Regions from separate parts of the Homo sapiens genome. Here regions 2 and 3 are each linked to region 1. The links come from fine-mapping of genetic effects on plasma protein levels. A gene starts in region 1. Each other region holds a variant in brackets. All regions are shown on one strand. Distances are between the middles of the regions.

Region 1 (8,407 bases):
GGATCAGCAGAGATACCATTTTTGAACCATATTAGAGGATTTTTAAGGCTCATTTTGTAGCTGACCTTCCCTGAGTCAGCCAGAGCCCATCACTGCCTGGGGAGGGTTATGATGGATCCTAGAACAATGTTCGACTTTGACCCCCAAAGTAAGCTCTGGAAGCCCATGGTGAGACAATAACACCCAAAGTCAGGCATTGTGGAGAAGAAACAGGGGCTTTTAAAATTCCCCAAATTCCCTTCTGCATAGCAAGAGCAAAGCCAGCTCAGCTTAGAACATATTTTTATCCTAAGTGATAGGAGCTGGGGGTGTTGGTGGAAGGGAGGGAGAATGCAAGGGAAGGTCCCTGCTGTTAGAAGAAGGAAGAGCTCCCCACTACAGGAGGGTGGAAAAAGAGGTTCAGAGAGGGCAAGGTTGAGAGGTAAGATACTGTCTGAGTTCTTCCAGGGCTCACAGCCCTGTGTGGATGGGCTGGGAATGGTGGGAAGAGCATGGAGATAGACATCCCCTCTCTGGGGGTCCACTGTGGGGTAGAGATGGGGTCATGGTGAGTAAGCAGAAAAAGAGTGAGACTCCAGGGTCTGCTTGTGATATGGAAAGATCCAGAAGCTCCTCAGCTAATGGCAGCTGAGGGGCTTGGCTGTCAAAGTGGGCAATGGGGTGGCAAAGTGACAAACTTTCCCTTCTTCCCTGCTCTCCACTGGGAAGGAGAGGCTGGGAGCAAGTCTTGGACCTCTGGAGCCTTTGTACACCTGTGGTGTCTAGCACTGTGCTTTTCCACAGGTTGCTTTCTGTTGGGTAGGACCCCTACCCACAAGGGCCATGTTGCATGGTATGGGCCTTCTCCTTTTCCACACCACAATACACCCACATCAAGAGCATACTGACTTCAAGACAGCCCCGATGGTAAACAAACAAACAAAACAACAACCCTGAGTTCTTATTATGATCAAGAGTTTGGGCCAGGGCTTTGCGGGAGGGACTAGGAAAGTCTTCACTCATTTGGGGCCCTGGCATGTATGTCTCCTCTGATTCTTCAATGTACTTCCTCTAAACTTCTCTTGAGAACTTGAGTTTGAAAGTTATATCTCTGTGTCCTTAGATCCTGAATAGTCAATATCTTGAGTGCTACTGCTGCTGCTGATGATGTTGGAGAAGACAACCTCCTTGAGTGCTTAATACATGCCTGGCACTTTCTAAGCATTAATCTTTGTGATAACTCTAAGTTCTATTATTACCCCCACTTTGTAGGTGAGGAAACTGAGGCACAGAGCCATGGAGTAACTTGCCAAGAGCACAGAGCCCTAACCGGCAGGGGCTAGGCCAATCCCAGGCAGTGAAACTCCAGGGCCTCCACCCTTACGCTGTGTCTGATCTCACTTTGTGTCTTTATGGGGCCTGGCAGATAACAGGTGCTCAGCAAAGATTATGCTTCTAAGAATCATCACCCTTCCTACAGATAGGTTATGACTGTAAAGCTCTGGTCAATGGATCTCTCTCTTTGGACTTGATTACTTTTTTTTTAGGCTTTCCTGTTAGTTTTGTCTACCCCATCACGCTGTCCAGCCTGCAGCTGGAGCTCTGGGAGAGTAGATGCTCTGAGGTCTCACCCTCAACTTGGCCTCTGACAGGTTCCCTGCCCAGCCAAACTGCCATCACCAGTAGACAAGCTTCCTGGTAATCCTCACATTGAATTCATGTGATGCATGGATGAGGTATCAACATCAGTCCTGTCCTGGAGCCTGAGGAGTGAACCCAATGATCCCTGAGACCCTTCTAGTCTTCAAAGTCCACACTGACCAGAGTGGTTTTAAAATATTCATCATCTTCTTTAACTAGTCTCAGAAAATAATACTCCAAAATATGAACATTCCCACTTTCAGGCCCATGCACACTCTACACACTTTTCCAGGGCCAGTTCAAATGATATCTCCTCCTCCAGGAAGCCTTCCTTGCTTATCTGGCTGAAATTGAACTTCTCTTGTTTGAACACCCAGCCCTTGGTTTCCCCAAGCCATTCACTCCCTGGTGCCTCTGTTTAGCTTTCCCTGGCCTTGGCTTATTCTCAGTTACAGGCAGGACCCAGATTGCACACACGCTAGGGCCCCACCCCCAGCTCCTTGCAAGCAGATGTCATTGTTCCAACATTGATTGATATGTTTAATGAATCCCATATTTCAAGAATGCAACTGACCAGACATAACTCAGGAGTGGTTTTCGCCATATAAGCGGAGCTCTGAGTCACAAATCCTGTGTCTTCAGAGGTCCTTTAATGTCATTCTCTGCCCCCTCCTCCTTGAGTAGCAACAACATTAACAACCATTGATTAAAGCCTACTGTGCACCCAGCCCTGTGTTAAGGGCCTTTCTTACAGTGCCTTAGTGCATCCTGACAACTTTACAGGACACGGAATTTGTGTCTCCATTCTTCACATAAGGAAACCTGTTGGAAAGGTCGCATAACCAGTCCAAGATTGAACAGCTAGCAGGGTGCAGAGCCAGAAGTGGAAGCCAGGTCTGATTCCAAAGCCATTGCTCTTAGCTTCCTGAGGTCCAGGCTGTCCCTAGCCCCTAAGGCAGCCACTCCTTCCCAAGGTTCTGATGCAGCCACCTATCTGGAGTCACACAGGAGTGCGTCTCTTTTCTTGTGGCTGGATCTCCTAGTGATATGAGGACAGTTCCTGGAGAAGATTCTCCCCTCCTGTCTAAACACACCTAAATGGGCTTGGCCTCCTCCCGCAGCTGGCTTCTAGTTGCATATTGGCCTGGTGGCAGTTCTTCCCCTGCTCTCCCTTCCAAGCCCCCACAACTCAATGTATCAATGATTGTTTTAAACTGTGACTCTAGGATTCCACTAGCCAGAGGCCCTTTCAACCATGGGCCCTCTGAGAAGCTCCTCTGTAGGCCGACAGGAGGGTGGACTTGCTTCGCGTGGTACCCGGGGACTGGGGCAAGCGGCTGCGGGATAGGGGTCTCCACCTGAGCTCCCTGAGGGCACCTCTCCCACTACCACCGCATCTGACCCCCACTACTGGCCCCAGCTCGGGCCTGGAGCCCACGCAGAAGGGGAGGCAAGGTTGAGCGCCCACACCCGGCCAGTAACCGAGGCGCTGGCCCTTGCCGGAGCACTTGGCCGTCTTCCGCAGAACAGCATCACTGGCAGCCGCCCCGCGTGGAGGGTGGAGCCGGGGAGCCCGGTGTGGGACGGCCGGGGCCAGGGTACCCTAGGGCGGAGAGCTCAGGGCTGGCTTCCCGCTCCCAGCCGCGCGCCCCTCGGGCCGGAGGTTCCTGCCGCGCCCCGACACCTGGAGTGCATTAGGCGGCGGCGCGCGTCTAGGCGACGGCGGCTTTCCCCAGATTATTGAATAATTGCATAATTCCGAGCGCGGGTTGGGAGGCAATGCCGGGTCCCTACCCCGGGTGTCAGGTAACGTTTCGGGGGTCCTGCGCTGCGCGACTGTGTCCCGCCGCTGCTGGCCGGGCAGACGAGAGCTAGCCCCCGCCTACCGGCCATCGCCCCGGGGCTTTGCTCTGTCTTTGGCCGGAGGCACTCTGCGCAGCCCTCACCCCCACCCTTCAGCCCTCCGGGGCCGCCGCGCCCGGCTCTCCAAACTTTGAGATGCTTCCCCGGAGCCAGGCAGGAGGGCAGCCAGGGCACACTCTCTTGGCGCTGATTCCCTTCCCCAGCCGGGGCCGTGCGCCCTCGGCGCTCCCGGGACACCCGAGTGCCCCTGGCAGCCGTGCGGGAACCCCGGCATGGGCCTTGGAGGCACCTAAGGCGCCCAGGAGGGCCACCAGATCTGGGAGCTTTTCAACTCAAGCCTCTTCAACTCTTCCCAAACACACCAAAGAGTCCCGGCTTTCAATAGCCTTCGCACCTCCCTCTTTAGCGAAACTTGACTGAACCGCTAGACTGGGGCCAGTCCCTGGGGGACCCACGTCCCCAAGAGCAGCTGAGGTCTGACCCTGGGAGGAGGGTCGCGTCCCGATCCTGGCCGCTGGATCCAAGCCCCGAGGGCCCAGGGAGGGACTCCGAGAGGCAAGGGGAGGCAGAGGGTGGGCACCTACCTGGCCACAGGCTGAGCGCCCAGGCCACCACCAGGCCCCTGGGCAGGTCCATGGCCCGCGGCACGGCGGCTGGGTCCGGTGTGCAGCGGCGGCGGGGGGCGGCAAGCCAGAGCGGCAGCCTCCTCGGCGCGGCGCCTGCAGCCTGCACTGCGCGGGGCGCCGGGCTCCCTGACAGCTGCGGCTCATTCAGAGGAAGTGGGAGGGCTCGAGCGGAGGGGAGGGGCGCCGGACACCACTCCGGCTCGGGCTCTGGGCCAGTCTCGGCCGCTCTGCCACCTGGGCAGGCGGCGCGCTGCCTCGACGCGCCTGTGCAGCGCTCCTTCTCCGCCAACCCCACGTCAGCCTCTGGAGAAAACTCCAGAGAACCGCTCCTGGGAACCCCCTCACCAGTGTAGCACCGCACCGCCTCAGTCAGATTCTGTTCAGGAAAAGTGGTTTTTATTCCCATTTCCCAGTGAAAAGAGATTCACAAAACTCAGAGGGTACCCAAGCTGGCTCAGGAACACCTGCTGGAACGCAGGTCTCCCTTGGCCAAGTGAGTGGATGTCCCTCAAAGGTCCATTCTAAGACATCCCCGTGTCTCCCTGCACCCTGCGGCTTGAATTGTAGAGGCTAGTGTTTCTTCTGACCCTGGAATACATGCAGATTCGCCTCCACTGCCACTCCCTGAGCCTCCACACCTGAGGCATTCCAAAGCACCCAGGGACACCGTGCACCCCCTCTTAACCTAACGTGAAGCTCTTCTTTGTAACCCTGCCACCTTCTTTCCCTCTTCTAATCACTGGTAGTTAAATTCAATGCACATTTATCTCAAGAGCTTTAAATCCAGGCCCCGGACCTCCACCGCGCTTGTGGAGGCTTTTCCAGCAATGGAGGAAGCCGAGGCAGAGGGTAGGAAGGCCAAGATGCAGGGAAAGCCACAGCAGAGCGCCCTTCCCCCACTTTCTCAGGAAAGGCTTCCTTCACCCCCTCTTCCCGTCCCCACCAGGTTGAGTCCCAGACACATGCTGATATTCCCCAGCCCGCTCTCCCTCATTTCTCTTCATTGTGCTTAGTAGAGAAGCAAGGCATCAATTGGTGTGATCATTTAACTTTTCTCTCCTGTGCAGACTGAAAACACCATCAGGGTAGAAATCTCTGGTTCACAATGGAGTACTCAGCCCCTAACACCCAGGAACAAAGTAGGTGGGCGGGTGGATGGATGGGTGAGTACAGGTGGTGTGTGGGTGCACAAAGGATAGAGTTTTCTATCTGGGAGGTATTGGAAGGGCTTCCCAGAGGAGGTGATGTTCAGTCAGGGCCCCTGAAGATGAGCTGGAGTTTGAGAAGACCCAGGTTCACATAAGTGAAGTGGGCTTGTGCTCGTCTCCCAACCTCACTATCTTTCGGTTGGCTATCTGGGTTTTACTTCATCTTCACCTCACCCATTCAGCCACAGACTCGGGGAAGGTGATTCCGTCCCTGGTGTGTGTGTGTGTGTGTGTGTGTGTGTAAGGAGGCATGCGGTTCAGGCTGAAATGAATCAGTATGTTGCCCTTCCCAGCCCATCGTTTCAGAAAGGGCAATATGACAAAAGAAAAAGTTTTTTTGGGAAGCAAGCTTTCTTGCCTTTCTAAAAGAGCCCCTAGAACAAACAAACAAATGAACTAACTCTCTCTCCTCACCTCTCCCACTCCTGCCTCCTCTCCCAGCCTGGGACAAGGAACTTTGTAGGCTCAGAAGTTGACAGGGTCAGGGTAGGGAAGGAGGATCTGGCCTTGAGATGAGGTGGACACTGGATGACAGAATGGAGGATCTTGTTGAACTCCTGAATGAAGCCACCCCTTAACCCCACTCCCCTTGGGACTTATCAGTTATACGACAGTGAGTCCTCTTCACTGAGTTGAGTTTAAGCCAGCTGAGTTGAATGTAGAACACCCCTACAGCTAGGGAATGGGCTGCAGCCCACATTCCTGCCTTGCACAAATCTCCAGGTGCATCAGAACGACCTGGAGCACGTGCAAAGAATGCAAATTCCCCAAGGATCAGGGCATGCTGGTGGGTGCCCCAGGCACCTCTGACGTGTGGGTGGTCTGCAGCTTGTGCTCAGAGTCTGCATGCTGCTTGCTGAAGGGGCGCACTGTAGTGGCTGTCCTAGCTGCGCTGCTGCTGGTCTCGCTGGTAACAATTCTACCATTCATTCACCTTCACCGTCCTCACAGGTGCCTGGGGAATGGGGGTCCTGAGGATCACTCTGTGTGCTTTTGTGTAATGTGGGAGGGTGAGGGGAGAGGTGTGCCCTCATTTGTTCTTTCAACAGATCCTACAGAGTGCCTACTGTGCCCCTGTGCTCTGTAGGACACACGGAAGGAGAACCCCACACTAGGGCAGCTGGTGATGGAGCTGAGGAGACAAGACATAACCATGTATTTATTTAATCATAATCTGTTATTTATTAATCTATTTAAAACCATTTATTATTTCATCACTATTAAACATTATTTAAATCACACCCAAGGCAGCAGCATATGAGTGACAAGTGCACAATCCAGACTCTAAGGCTGGAGAACTGCAGAGAATTTGGTGAAGGGCTTTATGAAAGCTGTGATTTCTGTTGAATAATAATAATAACTCTTTACATGTACACAGTGTTTTAACTGATTTATTTATTCACATGCCATAAACTGTGCCATAGAATCCAGTAGTTGTTAGTATATTCACAAGATTGTAAAATCATCCTCACTAATTTCACAATATTTTTATCACCCCAAAAAGAAGCCCTGTAACCATGAGCAGTCACTCCCCATTCCTTCCCACCAGTCCCTGGCAACCACAAATCTATTTCTATGGATTTGCCTATTCTGGACGTTGCATATAAATGAAATCATATAATACGTGACCTTTTGAGTCTGGCTTCTTTCCCTTAGCATGATGTTTCCAAGGTTCATCCATGTTGCAACATGTATCAGTATTTCATTCCTTTTTATTGCCAAGTAACATTCCATTGTATGGATCTACCCCCTTTTGTTTATCCATTCATCAGGTGAGGCTTATTTAGGTGTTTCCACTTTAGGTTATTGTGAATAATGTGGCTATGAACACTTGTGCTGCCGGTCTTGCTGGTAGCAGTTCTACCATCCATTAACATAGCATAATGTTAGCATAATGTTCATACAAGTTTTTGTATGAATGTATGTTTTCAGTTCTCTTGGGTATACACCTAGGAGTGGAATTGCTGATCATATAGTAATTTTATGTTTAATCATTTGAGGAACTGCCAAACTATTTTCCACAGTTGCTACATCATTTTAGATTCCTACCAACAATGTACAAGTGCTATGTATAGTGTTTTACTATTTTTGAAATCCCTTTCATATCCATGATCTAATTTAATACTCATCTTGTACAAAATTGTATTTATTTTTTATAGTAAAGAGATTGTATAGTTGAAGATTCTTTCACTTGCAAGTGACAGAAATTCAACACAATCAAACTGAAGCAGAAAATAGAATGTAAAAGGTCATGTAACTAGGAAGTGCAAAGGTGTTCTGTCTGCAGGTGTGGCTGGATCAAGGGTCTCAAATCAATGTTACTGCTCTCTCTCTGTCTTCTCTTAGTTTTGCTTCACTCCATTTTCCTTTCCTGCAGCAGAAGAGTTTCTCTGACTGTCTAGCAGTCCCAAGCTTATACTTCATAGATTCTGAAGGGAGAGAGACAGCCTTCCTTTAGTAGATCCAGCAGAAAAGTCTAGGGCTTTGGTTCATGCCCACCCCTGAACCAGTCCTAGTGTCTGGAGGATATGGTGCTATAATTAGCTCAGTTTGGGACACACACCCAGCCCCATGACTTGGGAAGAGAAAGGCGCCATGACTGACAGCCCCATCAAAACCACATATTACAGGAGAGGACTTTCCTAAAGGAACCAGAAAAAGTGGGATGGCAAAGTATACTGGACAGACAAATCCATGGTTACTAAAAAATCTAAGCTCAAAGTAGCAATAGATTCACGCAAGATTCCACATCATCTATGAGGCAGAACTGAGATTGGAACCCAGCATTCTGAAAGCAGATTGAGTATTAATCCCAACATCCCAACTGGGTGGAGGGAGCGGGTATTTCAGGCCAAGACTGCATGAGCATGGTCAGCTCAGAGACAGGTCCTATTGGCAACTTCTGTGGCTCCCAAGATTTCAGTCTGAGCATGCTCCTCTGGGAGGACCTTGGCTTCTCTATGGAGGGAGAACGAGCAGTGGTCTGGAGTACTGATGACAGAGGCCTTGGCTCAGTTAGGACCAATGCTTTTTTTTTTTTTTTTTTTTTGAGATGGAGTCTTGCTCTGTCACCCAGGCTGGAGTGCAGTG
Region 2 (8,000 bases), 330 kb before region 1:
CCTATGCTACCTCCTAGAGGAGTAAATAACATTTTCCACTTCTGACATTTGTGGGGTTTTTTAATCAATTCTGAATTTTATTTTTGTTTACATGAGTATAGGGCTCTAATTTTATTTTTTTCCCAAAACTTCCTTTGAATATTATTCTAGATCTTACTCTGTTCCACTGGTCTAATTGTATACTTTTCTGCTAACATGGAATTATTGTATAGTTGACCCTTGAACAACAAGGGGATTGGGATGCCACCTTTGCAACACACACAGTCAAAAATTCACATGTAACTTTTGACTCCTCCAAAACTTTACTATAACCTATTGTTTACCAGAAGCCTTACCAATAACATAAACAGTTGATTAACACGTATTTTGTATATGTATGTATTGTGTACTGTATTCTTACAGCAAAGTAAGCTAGAGAAAAGAAACTGTTACTAAGAAAATCATAAGGAAAGAAAATATATTTACTATTAAGTGGATCATTATAAAGGTTTTCATACTTGTTATGTTTGCATTAAGTAGGCTAAAGGGGAGGAGTAATAGGAGGATTTTCATCTTGCTGTCTAAGAGGTGACAGAGGTGGAAGAAAATCTGTGTATAAATGGACCCACACAGTTAAAATCTGTGTTGTTCAAGGGTCAATTGTACTTAATTTTTTGATTGTTTTTAAATTTTTAAATAGATAATACATTGATGTACAAAACTCAAAAGTTACAAAAGGGTTTGCAATGAAAAGGAAGTCCCTCTTTCACCCTTATTTCAGTCACAGGTGTTGCTTTCAGTTCTTTTTATATTTTTACTGGGGTAGCTGCTGCACCTACAAACAAACATATTTGCCTCATTCTTTTTTAGCAGCTACTTAGTAGGCAATAGATTCGTTGGATTCTGTGTTATTAAATATTCCCCTGTTGGTCAACATTTGGGTAGTTTCTTGCTGTTGAAAACATTGCTGTAGAGAATATTCTGTGATATATATCACTATGCACTTGTCTAAATATAGCCAGTAGTTTTATAATTCCTAGAAATAGAAAGTGCATCTAAATATTTTTTGTAGATGTTGCCAAATTTCCCTCTAGAGAAAGGTGTGTTTGCTAATTTATAATCTTACAGGCTCTGTAAGAGACTGTTTTTTCCTCCTGTGCCTTCAACGATACCATGTGTTATTAAACTTTTTGATCATTCCAAATTAACAGCGAAAATTTATAACTCATTATAGTTTTAACTTGCACTTCTCTTATGGGTGAGGGTGAAGTTTGTTGTTGTTGTTGTTGTTGTTTTTAAAAATATATTTTTTAAATTATAAAAGCACATCGTTATTTATTTATGAGCGGAGTTTTACTCTCGTCACTCAGGCTGGGTGACTATATATGTATATATATTTCTTTTTTTTTTTTTTACTCTTCAAAGTTCCTTGAGCTTTTTATTTTGAAATTTGGTGGTTGGGCTTTTTACCCTTTTTTATAGACTTAAGAAATTTAGCACTTTGTGATATAAGTTGTGACTACTTTTTCCATTGTGATTGTCTTTTGAGTTTTTTTTATGATTGGTGTTGCACATTAGCCATCAGTTCTTTTTTATTGCTAAGTAATGATTCATGGTATGGATATATCACAATTTCTCTAACTATTCGAATTATTTAAGAGCATTTTGGTTGTTTACAGTTTCTGGCTATCATAAATAATGTTATCCTGAGTATTCATGTACAGGTGCTTGTATGGACATAAGTTTTCTTTTCTCCAAATACATGCCCAGGAATGGAATTGCTGGGTCATATGTGTAAGTATATGGGTTTTTGGGGGTTTTTTTTTTGGGAGAAAATACCAAGTTGTCTTCCTGAGTGGCTGTACCACTTTCTGTTTCTTCTGGTATTGTATGAGAGGTCCAGTTTTTCTCTGTCTTTGCCAGCATATTTGTTATTGTCACTTTTTTTATTTTTAGATGTTTAAGTATGTATGTAGCGATAACTCATTTTGGTTTTAATTTACATTTTCCTAATGACTAATGATGTTGAACATCTTTCCACATACTTATTTGCCATCTGTCGACATACTTATACTCTTTGGTGAAATGTCTGTGCATATTTTTCTCATTCTTTAATTGAATTACTTGTTTTTATATTATTGACTTTTGAGAGTTCCTTTGCATATTGTAGATACTAGTTTTAGTCAGAGATGTAGTTTGCAAATGTTTTCTTCCAGTCTGTAGCTTGTATTTCTTCGGGAAAAAAAAAAAAAAAACACCTTTTGATCTTGAAATAATTACAGATTTGTAGGAAGTTGAGAAATGTATAGGAACATCCTGTGTACTCTTAACCTAGCCTTCTCCATTGTTAACATCTTTCTTAATATAGTGCAGTATCCAAACTAGGACATAACATTGGTACAATACACAGAGCTTTTCAGATTTTATTAGTTGTATTTGCAGTCATGTGTATTTGTAGCTCTGTGCAGATTTATCACATGTAACTACCACCACAATAAAAGATACCTAACTGTCCTGTCACCCACAAGACTCCCTCTTGCTAACTTTTTGATAACCTCACCCACTCTCTCTAGCCCCAGTGGTTCATCCAAGTTGCTGTGTATATCACTAGTTTGTTCCTTTTAAGGGGCGGGGAGGGGGGCGCTGAGAAGTATTCTATCATATAATGTAGTTTCATTTGTTTAAACATTTACCAGCTGAAGAACATTAGTGTAGTTTTCTGTGTTTGGCTGTTAATGAATAAAATTACTATGAATATTCATATACAATTTCCTGTGCAAAAATAAATTTTTATATCTCTGGTAAATGCCCAAGGGTTATCAGTTGCTGGGCTGTATGGTAGTTTTAGTTTTAGTTTTAAAAGGTCTGCAAAATTATTTTCCAGACTGACTGTATCATTTTACATTCCTAGCAGCCATGAATGAATGATCCAGTGTTTCTGCATCCTTGTCAGCATTTGATGCTATCACTATTTTTTAGTTTTGCCATTTTGATAGGAGTATAGTGATATCTCATTGTGTTTTGTTGTTGTTTTTGTTTTGTTTTTTTTTTTTTGAGATAAGGTCTCGCTCTGTCACCCAGGGTGGAGGGCAGTGGCATGATCATGGTTCCCTGCAGCCTCAACCTCCCTGGCTCAGGTGATCCTCCCGCCTCTCAAGCCTCCCAGGTAGTCAGGACTACAGGCACACGCCACCACACCTGGCTAATTCTTTGTATTTTCTGTAGAGACAGGGTTTCACCATGTTGGCCAGGCTGGTCTCAAACTCCTGGAGTCAAGTGATCTTCTCCCCTCAACCTCCCAAAGTGCTAGGATTACAGGTGTGAGCCACCGTGGCTGGCCTTCATGGTGGTTTTAGTTTGCATTTCCCTAATAGCTAATGATGTTGAACATCCTTTTATTTGTTTATTTGCCATCTGAATATCCTCTTCAGTGAAATATCTTTTTATGTCTTTTGTCTTTTCTAATTGCAGTGTTTTTTTTTTTTTTTTAACTTATGAGTTTTCAGAGTTCTTTCTAGATTCTAGATTCTAGTCCTTCGTTGGGTTTGTGGTTTGCAGATCTTTTCTCCTGTGGTGTAACTTGTCTTTTTTTTTGTTTGTTTCCTTGTTTGTTTTTGACATGGGATCTCACTGTGTTGCTCAGGCTGCAGTGCAGTGGCTGTTCACAAGAGTGATTATAGTTTACCTTAATCTCAAATTCCTGGGCTCGAGCAGCCCTCCTGCCTCAGCCTCCTGAGTAGCTGGGACTACAGATGCATGCCACTGCGCCTGGCTTGTCTTCTTAATAGGATCTTTTTACATAGAACAAAATGTTTAATTTTGAGGAAGTCTCATTTACTGATTTGTTTCTTTGTTAGATTTGTGTTTTAGGTTTCTAGTCTAACAACCCCACTTGCACACCCACCCCACTTTTTTGACTTGCTCTGTCACCCAGGCTGGAATGCAGTGGCATGTGATCATAGCTCACTGCAGCCTTGAACTGCTGGGCTCAGGCAATCCTCCTGCCTCAGCCTTCTGAGTAGTTGAGACTACAGGTGTGTGCCATCGCGCCCAACTAATTTATTTTTTACTTTTTGTAGAGACGGGATCTGGTCTCATACTCCTGGCCTCAAGTGATCCTCCCACCCCAGCCTACCAAAACACTGAGATTATGGGCGTGAGCCACAGTGCCTAGCCAAGTCAAAAACCTCTCTGCCTGACTTTAGATTTGGAGATTTTTTTTTCCTCGAAAGTTTTTATTTTTACATTTTACATTTAAATCTGTGATCCATTTGTTACTACTTTTTATAAGGTGTGAGATTGAGATTGAGCTTCATTTATGGAGATCTAACTGTTCTTAGACCCCTGTTGCAAAGGCCGTCCTCCTCCATTGAATTACTTTTGCATCTTTATCAACAATCATTGTCTGTACCTATGTGGGTCTCTTTCTGGGTCCTCTGTTCTGTTCCATTGATCAGTGTTTCTGTCTCCCACCATTACCACATGGTCTTGATTACTATGTCAGACTATGTAATAAGTCATAAAATTAGGTAGAGTAATTGCTTTTACTTTGTTTAAATATTCTTCTAGTTCTTTTGCCTTTCCACACAAATTTTAGAATTATCTTCTCGCTCTACAAATAGTCTTGCTGGGATTTTGATAGGAATTGCATTAAACCTGCATATCAATTTAGGGATGATTAATAATTTTTCTATTTTGAGCCTTCCAGTATATGAACATGGTATGTTGCCATTTGTTTAGATCTTTTTTAAAATTTTATTCATCAGCATTTTATAGTTTTCAGTATATA[G/A]TTCCCACACTTGTTTTGTTAGACCTGTACTTAAATATTTTGTTTTTTTCTGAGTGATTATATCTTGTGACCTTGCTGAGTTCACTTATAGTTCTAGGAAGTTTTTTGTAAATTTGAGGGGTATTTCTTCATAGACTACCTTGTTTTCTGCAAACAGGGACAGTTTTTATTTCTTAACCATCTGCCTGCTGCCTTCCATTTATTTACTTTGCCTTATTGCTTTATGGCTCTAATAGAGTGTTGAATAATAGTGGTGACAGTGAACATCCTTCTTTGATTTTTATTTCTTTTTTTTTTGAGACAGGGTCTCATTCTGTTGCCCAGGCTGGAGTATAGTAGCACAGTCTCGGCTCACTGCAACATCCGCCTCCTGGACTCAAGTGATCTTCCTGCCTCAGCCTTCTGAGTAGCTGGGACTATAGGTGCGCACCACCACACCCAGATAATTTTCGTATTTTAGTAGAGATGGGGTTTCACTATGTTGGCTAGGCTGGTCTCGAACTCCTGGCCTCAAGTGATCTGCCCGCCTCGCCCACCCAAAGAGCTAGGATTACAGGTGTGAGCCACTCTGCCTGACCCTTCTTTGATTTTGATCTTAGGGGGAAAGCTTCAAGATAAAATGATATTTTTTTTTCTGTGTTTAGGCTTTTGCCCTTGAATCTACCATGTTTTGTATTATTATCCTTTTTTTTTTTTTAAGCTTTTCGTTAGCATTTGTCTGACATAAACTTTGTTCTTTTGTTTTCAACCTTTTGTGGTGTTTATTTTTGGGTTCTTTTTGATTTTTTGTTTTAAAATAGCTTTATTGACATATAATTCATATACCACAAAATATATTCCTTTAAAGTGTACAATTCATTGGTTTTACTATATCCACAGAGTTGTGCAGCCACCATCACTATCAATTTTAGAACATTTTCATCACCCAGAAAAGAGCCTCTCTACCCATTATCAATCACTCTTTAGTGCCACCTCTCCCATCCCCTGAAACTACTAATACGGCATCTGTCTTTATAGATTTTCCTGTTTTGGACATCTCATATGAATGGAATCGTATGGTATATGACCTTCCGTGACTGGCTGTTTTCATTTAGAATGATGTTTTCAAGTTCATAAAGTTGTATGTGCCGAAACTTTGTTCTTTTTAATGGCCAAGTAATATTCCGTTATATGGATATACCACATTTTGTTTATACATTCATCAGTTGATGGGCATCTGAGTTGTTTCCACTTTTTGGCTAATATGAATATTCGTGTATAATTTTTTGTGTGGAAATATGTTTTCAATTCTTTTGGTTAAATACCTAGAACTAGAAATGCTGGCTCATATGGTAACTTTGTTTAACCTTTGAAGAACTGCCAGACTGTTTTCTAAAGCAGCTGTACCATTTATATTCCCACCAGTGATTTATGAGGATTCGCATTTCTCTCCACATCCTTACCAACACTTGTTATTATATGCCTTTTTTAATATAGTCATCCTAGTGGGTGTGAAGTGACATCTCATTGTAGTAGATTTCTCTCTTACAAATAGCACGTACCTGGCTTTTTAAAAACTCAGTCTTAAAATTTAACTTACTCTCATTTTATGCTAACGTTGTTACATTTGGTCTTTGTTCTGCCATCTTAATTTGTTGTCTGTCATTTTTTTCTGACCTCTGTGATATGAATTATACTTTGTTTCTCTTTTATTTTCTAATGGTTTGGGAGTTCTGCCTTCTATTTCTGTAGGTAGTTACTATTGAAATTTTACCCAACACATTTAAGCCTAAATTTTACTACCAACATCAACAACTTTTAAGAGTAATTACTGTGTCTTGCCTCTTCTCCTCTTCACTAATTTATTCTATCAGACATGTATTCATAGTTGTTTCTTCAAAATTCATATTAACCACAGAGAGACAAATATTTCGTGTTCTCACTTATATGTGGGAGCTAAAAACAATTGATCTCATGGAGGTAGTGATGATGGTGGTTACCAGAGGGAGACTGTAGTTAATAAGAATTTATTATGTATTTCAAAATAGCCAGAAGAGAAGATATGATGTGTTCCTAGCACAAAGAAATGATAAATGTTTGAGGTGATGGATATCCTAGTTACCCTAATTTAATCATTGCACATTGTATGCATGTACAAAAATACATATTCCATAAATATGTACAGCAATTATGTAACAAAGTTTACATAAGGGTCTCTGACAGAAGAAGCATTTTCCCACATTGCATAGTGACAGCCAAAATCTTAATAGGTACAATAATTAAAGTTATGAAAGAATTGCTATTGAATGAAGAAAATATTTGTCTTTAGTGCTTTACTTTAGATTATTTTGAGAGGACTATAGTGTATAGCTAAGAAGCAATCATTCAACTCAGGGTAGGTGGGTTAGGTTTAAGAAAATCTGATGACTCCATTGAGAATTGTATTAAAGCTCAGCCAAGAGAGCTGAGCTGTAACAATATTTAATTTGCCACATTGCAGTTTCATCCATCTAGAAGTGTAGGAAATTCAGGTTTTCAGGTTCACTCAGGATATGAATTGTTAACTTCCTCTTAGCAGAGATAATATATTACTATTTACCAGATAATCTTAATACTCTAACTTATATTTTTACTTCAGAAGTTTTTCTAGAATTTATCTAGGTTACTTTTAGATAAGTAAATCAGGCCATTTGTTTGTATTTATTATTGGTATATTTCTGTATAATTTCCTTATGCCTGTGTAGATCGTGGAGTTCTTTTGAAGTCAATTTCAAGTCAAGATTATATTTATGTACATGATTTTTTTCTCATATTTCTCACTTTCCCACCATATGATCTAGGTTTGCTACATCAGAATTGGAGAGTGACATTTAACTTAGTGTTTCCGGAATAAAGAATCTGGAGCTTTTACTACCCCATAAGTAATCTATTTTAGCCTTTCTAAGTCTGCAGCTTCCTTTCACTTTGCTTTCCAATCTAGCATTTCACCTCTAGTTTTACCCCAGTTATGCTTTATAGATTAAACCTCTGAAATGTGTTTAATCTGTATGAAATGAAATTATAGCTGGGCACAGTGGTGCACACCTGTAGTCCCAGCTACTTGGGAGGCTGAGCATGAGAGTCGGTTGAGCCCAGGAGTTCCAAACCAGCCTGGGCAACATAGCAAAACGCCATCTCTAAAAAAAATTTTTTTTAAATAAATAACTAACAGTAACCTTAAAATGAAATTATGGTTCTTAATGATAGTGGCTTG
Region 3 (8,407 bases), 71 kb before region 1:
CCTGAGCTCTCAGCCAACAGCCAACAACAACTGACAGCCACGTGAGAACCTTCAGATGACAACAGCCCAAGGTGACACCAGACTGCAACTACCTGAGAGGACCCAAGAGAAAACCGACCAGCTGAGCCCAGTCAAACTCCAGAATTTTGAGGAATTAAGAAATTATTGTCTCAAGGTACTAAATTTTGTGGTAGTGTGTTACAAGGCAATAGATAACTACAATAGCATCTGAGATCTAAAAAAATTTTTTTTGTTCTACTTTTTTTTTACCGTGCAAATTCAATGCCAAATGCCGTCCGGGTCTCTGTTCCTCCTCTCTGCTCAATGTGGCTGGCAGCTTCCACCACATCTTTTACAGACCTGTAGTCGTTGAGGTGAAACTCATGCACCACATCTTCGCCATACTGCACAACTCCAACCTGCAAGGGAGAGGAGAGGGCAACAGAACATTTTGACCCCATGAACCCATGAACCTTAGAATTTGAGAGTGAGGATCCCCGGGAGTTGTCTCTGTGTGATAATACAGGAGGGAGGAGGGCTGAGGACCTTTCCAAGAAAGTAACCACAGCCAAAGGGAAGTGAGTTCTGCAAAGTTCTAGGAATGAATGGACAGCTTGGTGGCACAAGAAGGGGTGCATATAGAGAATGGAGACTTCGTGATTGAAAGAAAGGCCCAACAATTATGCTTCTTTCTTAGGAAAACAAAAGCAGAGCAGAGAATCAGTCTAAGTCCAAAAAATTATGAATAGTGTGGGTGGAAGGTCACAGTGTTTACCAAACTCCAAAACTGAGGTTCCTTAAAACTTGTAAGAGGTTCTTTTATCCCCATGGATGATAAAATAATGACAATATTAATAGCATCAAAATAAACAAAAAGCTTCAAGACCTATAGTAGGAATAGAACCATGAAACGTTCCTGTTGGAGGAGCCCACAGGGTTTATTTGGCACACGTGCCCTTCTAATGCTGGACTTTCACCCATGATACCCTAAAAGATGATCTTCTGGTGATGGGGAACTCATTACTTCATGAGAAAGTCCACTCCCTTTTTAACAGCCCTAATCGTTACAAATAATTTCTTAGATTGACTTGAAATCTGCCATCTAATAACTTCTAGTCATTAGTCCTCACTCAGGCAGAATAAAAGGGAATGAATCTACCTCCGCGTTAGCCAGGCAGCGTTTCAGATATATGAGCCTAGCAGCCCTTACCTCTCCTACCATCTTCCCTCCATGACCTGTATGTCTAATTCTCCCCTGTGCCCCACTCGACAGGGCTCTAGATTCCACTCAACCATTCCCACCTTCCTTGTCACTTTTTAGCTTGTCTAAGTCTTCACAGGTGGTGTCTTGTGTCTGACCCGTGAAGTGAGGCTTCCCCCAAAATGTCATTTGATGTGCTACACCAGAGAGGAGTGTCCTGAGCTGCAGTGCCCCAGTGCTGGCTGGCCCTACTACCTCTGCCCTCTTACCTACACCTCCTTCGTGCATGCAAAGATCTCTCTTAGACCTAAGGCAGCACCTGCCATGGGTTTGGGTGGCCCTGTTCAGAAGTGGAAAGAGCCCAAGAGATGCTCACCTGGATCTGCCCTGGGCCAATGTAAAACTTTTTCAGGATGTTGATGAGGAAGTGCTGAACCTCCACCCAGGGGTAGATGCTGTTGGAGCCATCCAGGACAATGACGATGTCCATGTAGGTCTGGCACCCTGGAAAGTGGGGACACAGTTATGGCTACCCAAGGAGCAGTGTCTGCGAGTCTCTGATTCTCTGGACAATTGTTCAAAGGACAAATGAATGACTCTGCTCCATATGTGTAATTCCCTGGGCTGGGAAACTGTCCTTGGGTTGGACATTTATTTGGGCAATGTGAGTGAGCCCAGGAATTCCTGGCTGTGTTCTACCACTCTGCTGGCTGTTTGAACAAAGCTTAAATTAAGCCTGATCACTTCTATTCCTAATCAGAGACTGACCACTACCAATCGGCCAACGCTTCCGAGGCAGCCAGCACTGCTCAAATCAGTACCTTGGTATTGTTTGTTTTGCTGTAATGAGCAGGCTGGCATTTACCACTTTCAGCCCAAATGAATGGATTTCTGTTTTTAGGAGGGAGATATGATGTCGTGGCTAGAAATGTGGGATGTGGCATCACACTGACTCCTGGCTTTGGCACTCCCTAGCTATGTGACCTAGGGTCAGTCACAAAACCTCTCAGCCTCAGTTTTCTCTTCTGTAAAAGAGGCACAACAATAGTAAAGAGTTGCCTAGAGTAATTAATGAGAAGATGCTTCTAAAGGGCTGAGCACAAAGCAAATGCTCAATAAATCTGAACTGATCATGGTTTCACTTTTTATTTATTTATTTATTTTTTAAGGAAACCACTGAGTTAATATGGTACTGATATCATCAGGTCAAGCTCTCGTGCCATTATCTCTGCCTCTGAATATAAAGGTTTCTTTATGCTTTTGTAATATTAATACTAAATTAGGCTGGGAGTCATGGCTCACACCCATAATCCCAGCACTTTGGGAGTCCGAAGTGGGTAGATCACCTGAGATCAGGAGTTCGAGACCAGCCTTGCCAACATGGCGAAACCCCGTCTCTACTAAAAATACAAAAATTAGCCAGGAGTCGTGATGCACACCTGTAATCCCAGCTACTCGGGAGGCTGAAGCATGAGAATTGCTTGAACCCAGGAGGCAGAGGTTGCAGTGAGCCAAGATCGGGCCACTACACTCCAGCCTGGGTGACAGAGTGAGACTCTGCCTCAAAAACAAACAAAACAAAACAAACAAATAAAAAAAAAACTAAATTAAAAGGAATAATGAAAATCAACAAAGAAAATTAAGAAAATATTGGCCATAACAAATATTAAAAAAACCCTCCTCTTTTAAAATCTAAGTAATTTATTTCTGTTTGTCAACAGTTGGAGTTACTTTGAAATAATGCATACACTCTGCGTCTGGGCATTGCTCATTTTTATTGGTGACTTTTTATGCTGTTATAAAATCTACTTTATAACAATGCTGCATGAACCTTTTGTGTGTTAACTGTTCCAGTAATTCTTGCATTTCGAAGAGGCACTATGTTGAAGTCAGTGCTGAGCAGACAGAGGAAGGTGGGGGTGGCTTTGAGTTGGGACGCCTGTTGCAGGCTTTGTGTTTAGTAGAGCATTTTAGAAGCATTTGGGCAACTTGAGTGCTCCGCCACTTCTTGTCCCACCTGCATACTGTGTACAGCATGTGATGACCTGACACTCCTGGCCTGGCAGAGCCTCATACATTTGTCCTTTTCTGGTTTAGTTCGGCTCCACACATGTGGACTGAGCACCTGCTATGTGCTGGAGCTCTGCATGGTGCAGGCAGCAGTGGGGGTGACCAAGACAGAAATTCCTTGATTTGGAGGAGTTCATAATCTTTTAACAGGTTATTTTTATTTTTATTTTTAAGCCAGCTTTATTATTATAATGCATTTATTATTGTTGATTTCTTTCTTACAATTTCACATTTTTCTTTCTAAGATACCTTGGGAACAAACTGGTTTGAGGGCTACGGTTCCTAAACATGGCTGAACACTCCCTTGGGGAGCTTAAAAACACACACACTCACACGCACGCATGCACACACACACACTTGCACATACTCCTACTGAATTAGGACCCACATGGGGTGCCCTGGAATCTGCATTTGGTAAGCTTCAGAGCAATGCTGCTGGTCAGCCAGGTGAGGAGGCCTCCACCACATGAGGTTCAGGGACCATAGGATGGTCACATCTAGGCCTGGAGGGACTAGCTCTAGGGGTGGTGACATTCCCCGGTGGGCCCCTCACGTACCCTGACCTCAGGCCTCCTCCTGTGCCCTGGCTCTGCCATTTCCTCTGTCATTTTGTGTGAATAGAATCCATGTCTCATTATCCCCCAGAAAGACGACCTTTCTGCCCCTGCTGGACTGATGCTTCCTCCTCCTCCCTTCCCCAGCCCCATCTGACTCGGCCTTGTTGTCTGGAGGGCGGCTGCAGGCAAGCCAGAGGTGCCAATTCCCGAACCCTCCATAAAACGGGCAGCAGCTGCTTGGGTGATGGTATTTAGTGCAGAGGAAATAGTGAGGCTCAGAGCCAAGAAGTCTGGGCTTGTGGGAGGCAGGGTCTGAGCAGTAATTCCCCAGGTTTTCTTCGCAGGTGGGCAATGAGCAAGAGGTTTTACGTTCCATGAGGCTCTGGACGAGCTGGACAGAACTCCCTGCTGTCCAGGAGCACTGATTTGGTGGAACTACTACCAAGGAGATTTCTGTTCTCCCTGTTCCTTCATCTACAAGGCTACTGCATTGCACAACATCAGGGGGCGCCATTCATATGTCTAAGTGAACAATTCCCCCAGAATTGTGCAGTGCACAGCTTGTCTGCTGCATGTGCTTGCCAGGTAACCTCCTATATACCCAGGGTTTCTGCAGTGAGCCTCCCTTGAGGCTGGGATTGTCTTTGAAACCTTAGCTCATTTGCTCTCCACCATCACACTTGGGAGAGGGAGGCCAGGATTATGACTCCCACAGAGGCCCAGAGAGTGGAGTGATACATTCCAGGTCATCCGGAGAGCTGGGGCAGGACAGTGCTAGAGTCCAAATACTGCTTTCTAGCCACAGGTTGTTGTGCTCAGGGCCCAAGTCTCTCTGGACTGTCCACTGCTCAGCTTGAGGTTGCAGATTTGAAGCCACTTACTTTGGAGAGCTGGGGCCA[C/T]GGTCTTGGAGAACCTGAAGTTGGAGTTGACTCTTGAACACATCCCTGTGGTGTAGTAGGAGCTCCCACACTCATGAGACCAGAGGGGGCTGCAGGCCTGGGGAGGGCAGTGCAGATCCCCAGTCAGTGAGGGGACCTCAGAGAGGATCGAGGTCCAATGGCCTGAGGCCCACTCCCATCCTCCACGACCCAAGACAGACTTCTATCTGAGGGGTGAGGGGGTGAGGGATCTTCTTTGGGTCTAACTGAACTCTCTCTTGCTGCAATGTGTACTAGTTCCTTTGGTTTCAGGTCTAATGGAGAAAAACTGATCTTGGAGTCTCTTTCATTGTTTTTTCAAGGCCCTGTTCTCCATCTCATCATTTAGGAATATGATACTTCTTCACCCTACCTGCCCACCCCACTCACCCACCCACCATACGGGATCTGGGGAAGCCTTTTCACCCACGGGTGTGAACACTTCAAGGGTCACTAGAATAACTCCTCTGTCTGAGAGGTCGCCTGAAGGGCCTTACTGGGCAAACTTCTAGGACTGGGTCCCAAAAACATGCCATGGCTCATACTGGGGCAGGGGAAGATAAGAATGTCTGTATTCTTTCTGTGAAATGTTCTACCAAAAACACTGATGTCAGTCCCCATTGAAGGACTGAGTGAAGGGTTCTTCTCAGAGTCATTGTCATTAAAAATGAAAGCTCAGCTCCATGCTTCCATTGTTATCCTGCTATCAGGAAACCCAGAGCTAAATTTTGTGCTGTAATTTCCTTTGGTTTAGGGGAGTAATTATTCTACTTCCGATCCCTTTCTTTAATTACTTTCTTTTTAAGCTCAGATCTTAAAGGTTATGTTTTATCTGTGTACTTTGTTGAAGCTGCTGTACATAATGTTTGGAAGTGGCAGGGGACAGAGGGGAATAAAGAATGGATAGATGGATGGATGGATAAGTGGATGGATAGACAGATGATAGATGGATGGATAAGTGGGTGGTAGATGGATGGATGAATGATGTATAGATGGATGGATGAATGATGTATAGATGGATGATGAATGGATGGATGGATAAATGGATGGAAGATGGATGGAAGGATGATGGATAGATGTGAATGGATGGACAGATAGATGAATGGATAATGGATGGATGATGGATAGTGGACAGATGATGGATGAATGGATGATGAATGAATGGGTGAATGAATGATGGCTGGATAGATGATGGATGAATTAGTGGATGGATGATGGATGGATAGATGATCCATGTATGAATGGGTGGATGAATGATAATGGATGGATGATAGATGGTTGATGGATGAATGGGTGGATGGATGATGGATGAATGGATGATGGATGAATGGATGATGGATGAATAAGTGGATGAATGACAGATGGATGATGGATGGTTGATGGATGGATGGATGATGAATTGATGGGTGGATGAATGATAGATGATGGAGGTTGATGGATGGATGCAGGAAGGAATAAATGGAAAGATGGATGATTACATGGGAGATTGATGGTGGATCGATGTATAGACAGATGGGTAGATGAATGCATGGGTGGTTGGATAGATGAATGGAGGAATGAATTGTTGAGAGGGGAATGGACAGATGAGTGAATCAATGAACAGGTGACTATCTATAAACCAAGGATTAACCTACTCACAGAGGCCCCAGAGAATATATCACACCATTCCTCTCAGACCTTCATACCACCTTGTGAAGAAGAAATGTGATAAGGAGCCTGAGAGGGAAAAGGGAGTAGAGACAAAGCCCCTGACGGATATGTGTGTGGATAGGGCCAGGGGTCCTGCTTTGCCTCTGGTTATGGCTAATAAAGGGCTGTGGGCTGAATATACATCAAGGCACCTCATGACTTTCCCTGGCAGGGCCACTATGCACTCAAGTCCCCTTGCATCCCAGTCATCGTCTTATCTTTATGTCTTATTTGTCTTATCTAATTTGTCTTGTGATTCATGCCCCAGATGTCTCATTTGTCAGCAGAAATAGACCAGAACAAAGACTGACACAAGCACCCCATCTAAAAATGGGCAGTAATTTGTACTGGGCTTTCTGGGGTAAATTTTCTCTGAAGTCCTCTCCTGCAACTGTTTCTAGGAACCATCAGTCTCAGAAGGATCCTGTTTGAACCCCAAGCATCGCCCATACTCAACGCAGCTCACTCCAAGGTGGTGGCAAGGAGCAGGCAGTGCCAATCCATTGTGCCGCCCACACTCACTACCATGTGCAGAGTCCATATGTGCTCACCTGGGCACAGAACAGAGACCTGTAAGCAGAGCCTGCTGCTGTCTGTCCCCCAAAGTCCTATTAGACATTACTCGTTTGCTTGTCGCCTCTCTTTCCACCACAGTGTAAGCTCCAGCAGGACAGGGTCTCTATTCATTGCTGAATCCCGGTGCCCAGCACTGGGCTTAGCACATACTATGGTAAGTGCTCAGAAACATCATTGTTTAAATGAATGAATGTTTCTACCACCTCAACCCAGACATGCCCTTTTCTTCCTTGCGAAGGCCTGTCTCTTCTTTAAAAACAAAACAGAAACCTCCTCCAGCCTTCTTCATCTAATCCTGGATAGTTGAGACGGCTTGTCACTCTGTAGCCCTTCCCTCGGCTGTGGTAGTCTGTGTTTACTCATTTATGGCATCCCTTCCAAGTCTTCTTTGGGTGTGTGGTGCAGCCTGCTTCTTTTTTCAAGCCTAGAGCAGAGATTTGACCTCCAGCCCAGACAACTAGCTCCCCAAGGAAAGGGACAGTCCCCCACCAGACTTGTTGGCTATCTACATTTATTCTTGTCCCCTTTCTGGCTGTTCCTCCCTCCTTCGGGATATGCACACAAAAGGGCTCAATTGTTTCTTCTGCCTGGACTGTCCCTGCCAAAACACCCAGGGCCCTGCCACCCGGAATGGCATAAGCAGGGAGCTGGCGGGGGAGCTGCTTCCTGGAATGCACAGGGCCAGGCAGCTTGGTGGTTGGAGTGGGGGAGAGTGGGTGTACAGGATGGACATGAGGGTGTGTAAGGAGACGCTCCACCCCTCCCCACCCCCACCCCTGCCTCTCCTGACCCCAAGCAGTGGCAGGTGGCTCTTACCAGGAAGCTGTTGTCCTTGGGGTTGGTGGCGAGACTAAGGCCGAGGCGCATGTTGTCTTTCCGCTCGGACACGTTGGACAGGGTGACCCTTCCTGGGGTTGGGGGAGAAGTTCAGCTTGCAGCCCCCTCCTGCCCGCCCTCTGCCCAGAGCCTGCTGCTGGTCTGGTCACCCGAGGTGCCTCCCCGATTCTCCCTGACCCTGGGGACCTCTGGCTCTCAGGGTTTACAAAGGCCTTCCCCAGACGTACTCTCAGGACATCCTCACAACTGCCTGTGAGATGAGAAAACCGAGTCTCAGAGAGGCCAAACAACCTGCCCAAGGTCACACAGTGAGCACTCACCGAGCCTTCTATCTCCTAGCCCACAGCTTTTCCTCCTCCAGCCATCCGACTGGAGCCCCACTTCCCCGTGTGCCCCCAAGCATGCCATGGCATCCCACCTGGGCTGGCTTCCTTTGTGCAGTATCCCCGCTACGCTTTCTTCCAAGTTGACCCCCATCCACACTTAACCAGTCCTGTGCCCAACTCTTTCTGTGCCCACTTCTCTGCTCATCTGAACAATCAACATGTGACAGCTGAGAG

Direction of the effects. Alleles are on the strand shown, and positions count from the first base shown. The strength of an association depends on the size of the effect and on how common the allele is.
In carriers of allele A in region 2, the plasma level of the protein whose gene starts at base 4,216 in region 1 tends to be lower than with G alone (moderate association).
As copies of T replace C in region 3, the plasma level of the protein whose gene starts at base 4,216 in region 1 goes down (moderate association).

Evidence for each region. PIP is the chance, under the fine-mapping model, that this variant and not a neighbour inherited with it causes the effect. The UK Biobank Pharma Proteomics Project read protein levels with antibody pairs (Olink). The fine-mapping took linkage between variants from a reference panel, not from the people measured, so its PIPs are less certain.
Region 2: its variant is fine-mapped to the plasma level of the ITGA11 protein (UK Biobank, PIP above 0.99).
Region 3: its variant is fine-mapped to the plasma level of the ITGA11 protein (UK Biobank, PIP above 0.99). The variant lies in the coding sequence of ITGA11. If it changes the protein, the assay may bind it differently, which can mimic a change of level.

What each region holds. Positions count from the first base shown.
Region 1 is chr15:68,427,948-68,436,354 of GRCh38, forward strand. It overlaps ITGA11 (integrin subunit alpha 11), which reads right to left and starts at 4,216. Exons shown (of 30, transcript NM_001004439.2): 1 at 4,068-4,216. The coding sequence starts at 4,119. RefSeq lists an enhancer at 2,617-3,376 and a silencer at 5,923-6,217.
Region 2 is chr15:68,097,881-68,105,880 of GRCh38, forward strand. All of the region lies in intron 2 of PIAS1 (protein inhibitor of activated STAT 1), which reads left to right. Among named protein-coding and RNA genes, the nearest start is that of PIAS1, 48 kb to the left of the region's middle. The variant G/A (reference allele first, on the strand shown) is at 4,769.
Region 3 is chr15:68,356,881-68,365,287 of GRCh38, forward strand. It overlaps ITGA11 (integrin subunit alpha 11), which reads right to left. Exons shown (of 30, transcript NM_001004439.2): 4 at 7,827-7,918; 5 at 4,710-4,824; 6 at 1,578-1,705; 7 at 271-419. Among named protein-coding and RNA genes, the nearest start is that of ITGA11, 71 kb to the right of the region's middle. RefSeq lists an enhancer at 7,909-8,407. The variant C/T (reference allele first, on the strand shown) is at 4,728.